Homo sapiens: one gene and its partner. The protein of the gene in region 1 interacts with the protein of each later gene in a pairwise test. Each region holds a gene or a part of one and is shown in the gene's direction. Other genes may lie near its edges.

What was found.
Region 2: the proteins of TAC1 (region 1) and ARHGEF40 interact in a two-hybrid assay, tested with the Homo sapiens proteins (one large-scale study listed by IntAct).

What each region holds. Positions count from the first base shown.
Region 1 is NC_000007.14:97,730,702-97,735,158, forward strand, and holds the start of TAC1 (protachykinin-1 isoform beta precursor), read left to right. Parts: upstream 1-1,384; 5' UTR 1,385-1,494; intron 1,495-1,902; 5' UTR 1,903-1,911; coding exon 1,912-2,034; intron 2,035-3,021; coding exon 3,022-3,118; intron 3,119-3,546; coding exon 3,547-3,591; intron 3,592-4,124; coding exon 4,125-4,148; intron 4,149-4,457. UniProt on the Homo sapiens protein: Tachykinins are active peptides which excite neurons, evoke behavioral responses, are potent vasodilators and secretagogues, and contract (directly or indirectly) many smooth muscles.
Region 2 is NC_000014.9:21,073,067-21,076,875, forward strand, and holds part of ARHGEF40 (rho guanine nucleotide exchange factor 40), read left to right. Parts: coding exon 1-176; intron 177-865; coding exon 866-2,114; intron 2,115-2,265; coding exon 2,266-2,433; intron 2,434-2,556; exon of another isoform or gene 2,557-2,578; coding exon 2,579-2,699; intron 2,700-3,293; coding exon 3,294-3,390; intron 3,391-3,469; exon of another isoform or gene 3,470-3,496; coding exon 3,497-3,577; intron 3,578-3,707; coding exon 3,708-3,809. UniProt on the Homo sapiens protein: May act as a guanine nucleotide exchange factor (GEF).

The sequences.
Region 1 (4,457 bases):
AATAATCTCAGTGCAGAGGAAACTGGAAGGGTTGTAGATGAAACTTGGAAGTGGATGTTTCTCTCTACTTTTGGATATGCTTATAATTTTCCATATAAAAGTTCTGAAAACGGAAAATAAAATGCTCACATTGTGAGGCTAAGGCCAAAAGAAATCAGAGATGCATGAGAATTTCCAAATTCAGGATTATTTAAGAACAACATAGAGAAAAAAATACTTCTGGTTTGAGTTGCAAAAATTTATTTCTTTTATGCAATATACTAAAAAATCATAATTAATTGAAAAATATAATACTTCATATGTAAAGGGGAGAAAACTACTCCACCAAAGATGTCACATCTTTTAATTCATTTGGAGATCAAAGAAATGTGTCTGCCAGGCAACCAAGGGCTCATGGAAAGGTGTGGTTTCTGTACAAATGCTATTTGTCTAATATTTTGTGCTGTTAATGACTGTCCCATTAGCATCTTCACTACACTTACTTTCATAGAAAGGAGAAACATGATTTATAGAGCCCTTTAGTGACAAGGGTGAGGATCCTACACACTATGTTGCTGGTTTCCTAGTCTTCAGCAAGAAAGTGTAGGAGAGAAGCAAAAAACGTCCTGTTCAACCCCTGCTCCTGGATGTGGCAAGGAAGAGGAGTTACCCGGCTTGAAACAAAAGAAATCCTAAGTCTGACACACAATGTCATGTTTAAATTCCCCTTTCTCCAAAATGTAAAATAAATCTGCTTCCATCTTCTAAAATACTATGGGACTAAACATCCTTTTGTTATGCTAAGGAAAAGCCAGTATTCGCGTTGATTTAGAAGAGGGATGTTCTGGTTATAGAACGATGCTGTGTCTCAGAAACACTTAAATACTATTAAGCTAGAAATAGAAGGGAAAATAATGCTTCCCCGCATCTCCCCTCAAGTGTAGTCCTCTTTTTTTAGCCTGATTTCCGACGAAATGTCTGAATGCCTACAGTTATTTGGCCATCCTGAAAAGTGCAACTTATCCTGACGTCTCGAGGGACGGAAAAGTTACCGAAGTCCAAGGAATGAGTCACTTTGCTCAAATTTGATGAGTAATATCAGGTGTCATGAAACCCAGTTTCGAAGGAGAGGGGAGGGGGCGTCAGATCTGCAGACGGAAGCAGGCCGCTCCGGATTGGATGGCGAGACCTCGATTTTCCTAAAATTGCGTCATTTAGAACCCAATTGGGTCCAGATGTTATGGGCATCGACGAGTTACCGTCTCGGAAACTCTCAATCACGCAAGCGAAAGGAGAGGAGGCGGCTAATTAAATATTGAGCAGAAAGTCGCGTGGGGAGAATGTCACGTGGGTCTGGAGGCTCAAGGAGGCTGGGATAAATACCGCAAGGCACTGAGCAGGCGAAAGAGCGCGCTCGGACCTCCTTCCCGGCGGCAGCTACCGAGAGTGCGGAGCGACCAGCGTGCGCTCGGAGGAACCAGAGAAACTCAGCACCCCGCGGGACTGTCCGTCGCAGTAAGTGCCCGCGCGGTGCTGGCCGCGGCTGCCCGGGTCACCCCGCCCCGCATCTGTCCGAGGTGGCCGCGCTGGGGGCGCCGCTGCGGCGAGGGACAGTGGGGAGACTGGCTTCCCAAACGCCAACGCCCCTCTTTGTCTTCCACCTGCAGAGTTTCCTGGTTTGAAGGTGTGGGTTGGTGGGTTAGGGGGCTGGGGGAGTTGGGATTCAGGGAGAAGAGGGTTGGAGAATCTTTGGGACGCGATTCTCTCGCCTAACCGGTACAGGTGAGACTTCAGTCCTTATGTTTTTGATCTTGGTTCATCCGTTGTGGGGCAGAAAATTCTGTTGCTTTAACTCTTGGATAACCACCCCTAATAGATACATTATTTCTCTCTTTGGTGTCTTCTCCTCCTACCCCTTCCCAGAAATCCAACATGAAAATCCTCGTGGCCTTGGCAGTCTTTTTTCTTGTCTCCACTCAGCTGTTTGCAGAAGAAATAGGAGCCAATGATGATCTGAATTACTGGTCCGACTGGTACGACAGCGACCAGATCAAGGTGAGGCCCCTTCCCAGGACGGCCCGCACCCTTCTTCCTGGGCTCGGGAGCTGTCACCTTCCCACGCAACAGCACCCTAGTTAACGTGGCACGCACCGCCACCACGGAAAGAGGCAGCGGTTGCGTGCGAGAGGATGGAAAGGGGCACTATTTCCCGGGTTCCCCACGGGATTTTGTGCCCACGATTCAAGTTTCTTCCCGAGGGCTGCACCGTCCGGCCCAGGAACTCCCTGCAGTAGGGATGCCCTCCCGGATGAGCCCGAGATCCTCACAAGGCGGGAAATCTCGTAAGATTTCATCCCCCAGGACCTGGGATTTCGGGGGCTCCGGTCCAGCTGCACTGCCCTAGCGTCTGGGCACGGGCAGAGGAGGGCGCCTGGGTCGCGGGCAGCAGCGGGCACACGCGCGAGCTGCAGGGGGATTGGAGGGCCGGAGGCTGGAGGGAAGTTAATTTCCTGCCTTCACGTTTGTTTTGCGGACCTGAGGATGTAGCTTGAAGTCTCCCTTTAGAAACTCGTAGGCTACAGGCGCTGGGGAGCGCGCCTCGGAAAAACGGTGAAAGTCGTCTGTAAAGCGTTGTCACCCTTCCCCACCGGAGCCCCAGCCCCAGATCCCACACACCTGTGTGCATTTAGGGCGGTGAGGACTCTACAAAGCCGGCACCGAGACAAGACAAAGTCAGGTGGCGGCGCAGCAGATGAGGGAAGGTCCCCGGGCTGGGAGGAAAGAGCGGAAAGCGCTCGAAGCTTGAAGACGCCGAGCCAGCTGCTAACTCGCCCTGGCAGGCTTGCGGGGGGCGGGACGCGAGTTCGGCGGGGAGGGGCGCAGAGAGGCAGCGCCTCGGGAGGGACCCCGCTCAGCCCGAGCGTGGGGAAGGCCGCCTCCCCACGCCTCGGGGCCGGAGTACAGCGGGGGGAAGGGCTCGGGTTGCTGGGTGCCTCGCTCTGGTTGCCTTACACGCCCTTTGTCCGTGCTTTTGTCTCCCAGGAGGAACTGCCGGAGCCCTTTGAGCATCTTCTGCAGAGAATCGCCCGGAGACCCAAGCCTCAGCAGTTCTTTGGATTAATGGGCAAACGGGATGCTGGTGAGATAGGCGACCGTCCCTAGGTGTCTTGGGCAGCCCGCCCTGTCTGCTCACTCCTTCCTGGAGTACCCCAGGGTCTCTCGCTCTGAATAGAGATTTCCACTCCAAGAGGGGTGTAATTCCCCAGGCGCGACATTGGCCCACACCGCACTAAGGCACGCACGGGCCCGCGGGGGGAGGGAAAGATCTGGTTCGCATGCCTCACTGTATTCGAGTGAAGCGCTCCCTTGACTAAAGATCCAAACTGACAAAGGGAAGGCACGGGCCTCCAGGGGTAGTACTGCGGATGATCCAAGTGCATGTGGAAGAGGATTTTATAGCATTCCCTGAGGTGAGAGTACATTTGTCTTGGGATAGAAATATCGTTTCCTTGAATTCATCGCACGGTCAGTGGAACATGTAGTTAATGACAATTCGTCTCTTGTCAGATTCCTCAATTGAAAAACAAGTGGCCCTGTTAAAGGCTCTTTATGGTAAACATTCCTATAAATCTTTATTTTACTATTGTGAAAGCACATGTAGGAAAGTGAAATAAAATCTTTTATGGGCTGAAATACAAGATCTGGGTCATGCCTGTTTAATAAAGAGATGGATTTGCGCACTCTCTCTCGGTTTCTCTCTCTCTCTGTCACTCTCTCTGTCTCTCTCTCTCTGTCACTCTCTCTCAGTCTCTCTCTCTCTCTTTCTCTCTCTCTCTCAGTGGGTGGCCAGCCTTGAAGGTGGGATGTGTTACAGTCTTATAGTTAATAAGAGGCCTCAGAAGTCTCATAGTCCTAGGTTTGAATCCCATAGAAGGCACTTAATAAAAATTCCATTTGTTTGTTTAAATATTTAGTTTTTATGATTAATAATTTGTTTAGCATTTATGGTTCTGCTTTATTCCTCAGGATAATATATAGATAGAAAATGTTACATATTTTGAGAATCAAATTATTTTATAAAAGATATAATGTAGCATCTTTAAAAACAAATCTATATGTGTTTGCTAATTTTATCTTTCTTCTAGGACATGGCCAGATCTCTCACAAAAGTAAGTTCAAAATTATTTTGACATTTATCAAATTTAAATGTAAAATTATATTGAATTTCACTTTATTTATCTTACCTTATTTTCTGTCATGACTCTAGGGCTTAATATGTTTAATGAAGACAATATAAGAATGGGGGAGATTCATATTACATCCAGAATATGGTTGTTTAGACATATTGTACTTAGCAAAGAGATGCATTATATTAAAAAAGAAAAAAATGTCTTTTAAGTCCCTTCAATTGTTAGTTTTAGAGAAGAATTTCAATCCTAGGATTAGAAATCTACCATACATATTTCTTCCCAGCCACC
Region 2 (3,809 bases), on another chromosome or scaffold:
GTGTGCAGAGCACTCTCGCCGCCCTGTATCCACCCTTTGAGGCAACAGCCCCCACCCTGTTGGGCCAGGTGTTCCAGGTGGTGGAGAGGACTTATCGGGAGGACGCACTGAGGTACACGCTGGACTTCCTGGTACCAGCCAAGCACCTGCTTGCCAAGGTCCAGCAGGAAGCCTGTGTGAGTGGCCGTGCATCACTATTCTGCCTTCCCCAAGATCCACTGCCACACTCTACAGACTAGCCAGGCTGACTAATGCCCCCACTAACCTAGAGATACAGCCTCCCTTGAAACCGATCTCTCCAGAATCACTTAAGCTTCATTCTCTGACCTCTCACAAACTTTGACCTTCACAGGCACTGACCATTCAGATGCTAACACACACACACACACACACATTCATCTTCCCCAAATTCATCTTGACCCCAATACTGACCCCCAAAGACCCTAACTCTCCAGACCCAATTCCAGACATCTTCTCCCCCTCATATGAATTTCTCAAGACACTAACTCCCCCGTACATTAGTCAACAGAGATCATTCATTTCTACAGATATAAAGACTCCTAAGAGTCTTTAGCTTCTCCAAGACAATGGCATCTGCTGACCATGTCTTGGTAACGATTCAGTTCTTACCCTCCCACACATGGAACTAGCTTCCTGAAGAATCTTCCTACTACTGGGAGACCGATCAGTCCCAATCCCTTCCTCTCTGCCACCTGAATACCCCAAATCTCCCCTCCTGCTCTCCTGAGAGTATAACCTTCCAGGCATAAGGCTGGTCCTGCCTAGGGTGGGCCCATTCTAACTGCCCTCTCCTGCTGGTTTCTTCAGCAGAGGCCTGAGTGCAGCCTCCCACCTCTCTCCCCAGGCCCAATACAGTGGATTCCTCTTCTTCCATGAGGGGTGGCCGCTCTGCCTGCATGAACAGGTGGTGGTGCAGCTAGCAGCCCTACCCTGGCAACTGCTGCGCCCAGGAGACTTCTATCTGCAGGTGGTGCCCTCAGCTGCCCAAGCACCCCGACTAGCACTCAAGTGTCTGGCCCCTGGGGGTGGGCGGGTGCAGGAGGTTCCTGTGCCCAATGAGGCTTGTGCCTACCTATTCACACCTGAGTGGCTACAAGGCATCAACAAGGACCGGCCAACAGGTCGCCTCAGTACCTGCCTACTGTCTGCGCCCTCTGGGATTCAGCGGCTGCCCTGGGCTGAGCTCATCTGTCCACGATTTGTGCACAAAGAGGGCCTCATGGTTGGACATCAGCCAAGTACACTGCCCCCAGAACTGCCCTCTGGACCTCCAGGGCTTCCCAGCCCTCCACTTCCTGAGGAGGCGCTGGGTACCCGGAGTCCTGGGGATGGGCACAATGCCCCTGTGGAAGGACCTGAGGGCGAGTATGTGGAGCTGTTAGAGGTGACGCTGCCCGTGAGGGGGAGCCCAACAGATGCTGAAGGCTCCCCAGGCCTCTCCAGAGTCCGGACGGTACCCACCCGCAAGGGCGCTGGAGGGAAGGGCCGCCACCGGAGACACCGGGCGTGGATGCACCAGAAGGGCCTGGGGCCTCGGGGCCAGGATGGAGCACGCCCACCCGGCGAGGGGAGCAGCACCGGAGCCTCCCCTGAGTCTCCCCCAGGAGCTGAGGCTGTCCCAGAGGCAGCAGTCTTGGAGGTGTCTGAGCCCCCAGCAGAGGCTGTGGGAGAAGCCTCCGGATCTTGCCCCCTGAGGCCAGGGGAGCTTAGAGGAGGAGGAGGAGGAGGCCAGGGGGCTGAAGGACCACCTGGTACCCCTCGGAGAACAGGCAAAGGAAACAGAAGAAAGAAGCGAGCTGCAGGTCGAGGGGCTCTTAGCCGAGGAGGGGACAGTGCCCCACTGAGCCCTGGGGACAAGGAAGATGCCAGCCACCAAGAAGCCCTTGGCAATCTGCCCTCACCAAGTGAGCACAAGCTTCCAGAATGCCACCTGGTTAAGGAGGAATATGAAGGCTCAGGGAAGCCAGAATCTGAGCCAAAAGAGCTCAAAACAGCAGGCGAGAAAGAGCCTCAGCTCTCTGAAGCCTGTGGGCCTACAGAAGAGGGGGCCGGAGAGAGAGAGCTGGAGGGGCCAGGCCTGCTGTGTATGGCAGGTGAGATGACACGGAGTGAGGCTCATGGGGCAAGGGCCAAAGCAGGTCGGGCCTATGGGAGGGGGCAGGAGGAGGAGCAGGGTTAGGCTGGGAGCAGAACAACCAGAACCATCTTAACTTCAGTCCCATGTTTCTGTCTGTGTCTGTGCAGGACACACAGGCCCAGAAGGCCCCCTGTCTGACACTCCAACACCTCCGCTGGAGACTGTGCAGGAAGGAAAAGGGGACAACATTCCAGAAGAGGCCCTTGCAGTCTCCGTCTCTGATCACCCTGATGTAGCTTGGGACTTGATGGCATCTGGATTCCTCATCCTGACGGGTCAGTGGGCATCAGTGGGTGAAGGGAAACAGGACTGGGAAAGAGAAGCAATTGGGTGGGCTTGGGGACTGGGGGAGGCAGGGTGGAAAGGAGGTAGGCATGGACTGCTCCCAGCCAGGACAGCCTGGCCATTTTGTGTCTTCAGGAGGGGTGGACCAGAGTGGGCGAGCTCTGCTGACCATTACCCCACCGTGCCCTCCTGAGGAGCCCCCACCCTCCCGAGACACGCTGAACACAACTCTTCATTACCTCCACTCACTGCTCAGGTAACCGAGGCCCAGTCCTGGCACCCTGGACACTAACCTCCTGATTCATGAGGACCCTCACCTCCTTCTTCTCAGGACACTGACCTTCTGACCTCTAAGGACACCTACTTCTTCAACCTTCAGACTTCAAGCCATTGACCTTTGGCCTTACTTACCCTGACCTCCAGCTTCATATCTTCACTGATCTTCAAAAGCAACACTGTTGACTTTCACTCTCTTCCAACCCTACCAAGATCATCAGGACATTGGTTCACTGATTCAACAAACATTTATTGAGCACTGAGTACCTATTAGGCACCATACTACAGGCTGATATTGAATGCACGCCATTTCAGAACAGAATTCTTAATTTTCCAGACCTTAATCCCTTGACCTAGTAGCCATATGAATATAGACCCCTGACTGCTAGGTGACTTCCTCTTGTACACACACCCCAGAATTTGGCCCTTTGCCCATTTCTTCCCAAATGTACCGGCAACTAATTTCTCCTCAGGACTATTAACTAAAAACAGACCCCGTATGTCTGCCTTGCCTTATCTGCTATCCCCCAAAACACACACACAGCAGCCTCCTTGGCTCTTCCTGCTCCCGCAGGCCTGATCTACAGACACTGGGGCTGTCCGTCCTGCTGGACCTTCGTCAGGCACCTCCACTGCCTCCAGCACTCATTCCTGCCTTGAGCCAACTTCAGGTAACCACCCCTCAAACAGGCAGTTCCCCTGGATCCTAACTCTTCACCAGTGGCCAGTCCAGGACACCCGATTGCCCAGTTTAGGGTTATTCTTTTCTGCCCTTAGGACTCAGGAGATCCTCCCCTTGTTCAGCGGCTGCTGATTCTCATTCATGATGACCTTCCAACTGAACTCTGTGGATTTCAGGTTTGAGCCCTTCATTCCCATCTAGTTTCCCATCAGTAGTGGGGAGAGGAGAAGAGGCTGGCTGGAGCCCCAGGCTGGTTTCTGAGTCCTTGGGTGCCCAGGAAGAAACCCCCTGCCTTACCCTCTACAGGGTGCTGAGGTGCTGTCAGAGAATGATCTGAAAAGAGTGGCCAAGCCAGAGGAGCTGCAGTGGGAGTTAGGAGGTCACAGGGACCCCTCTCCCAGTCACTGG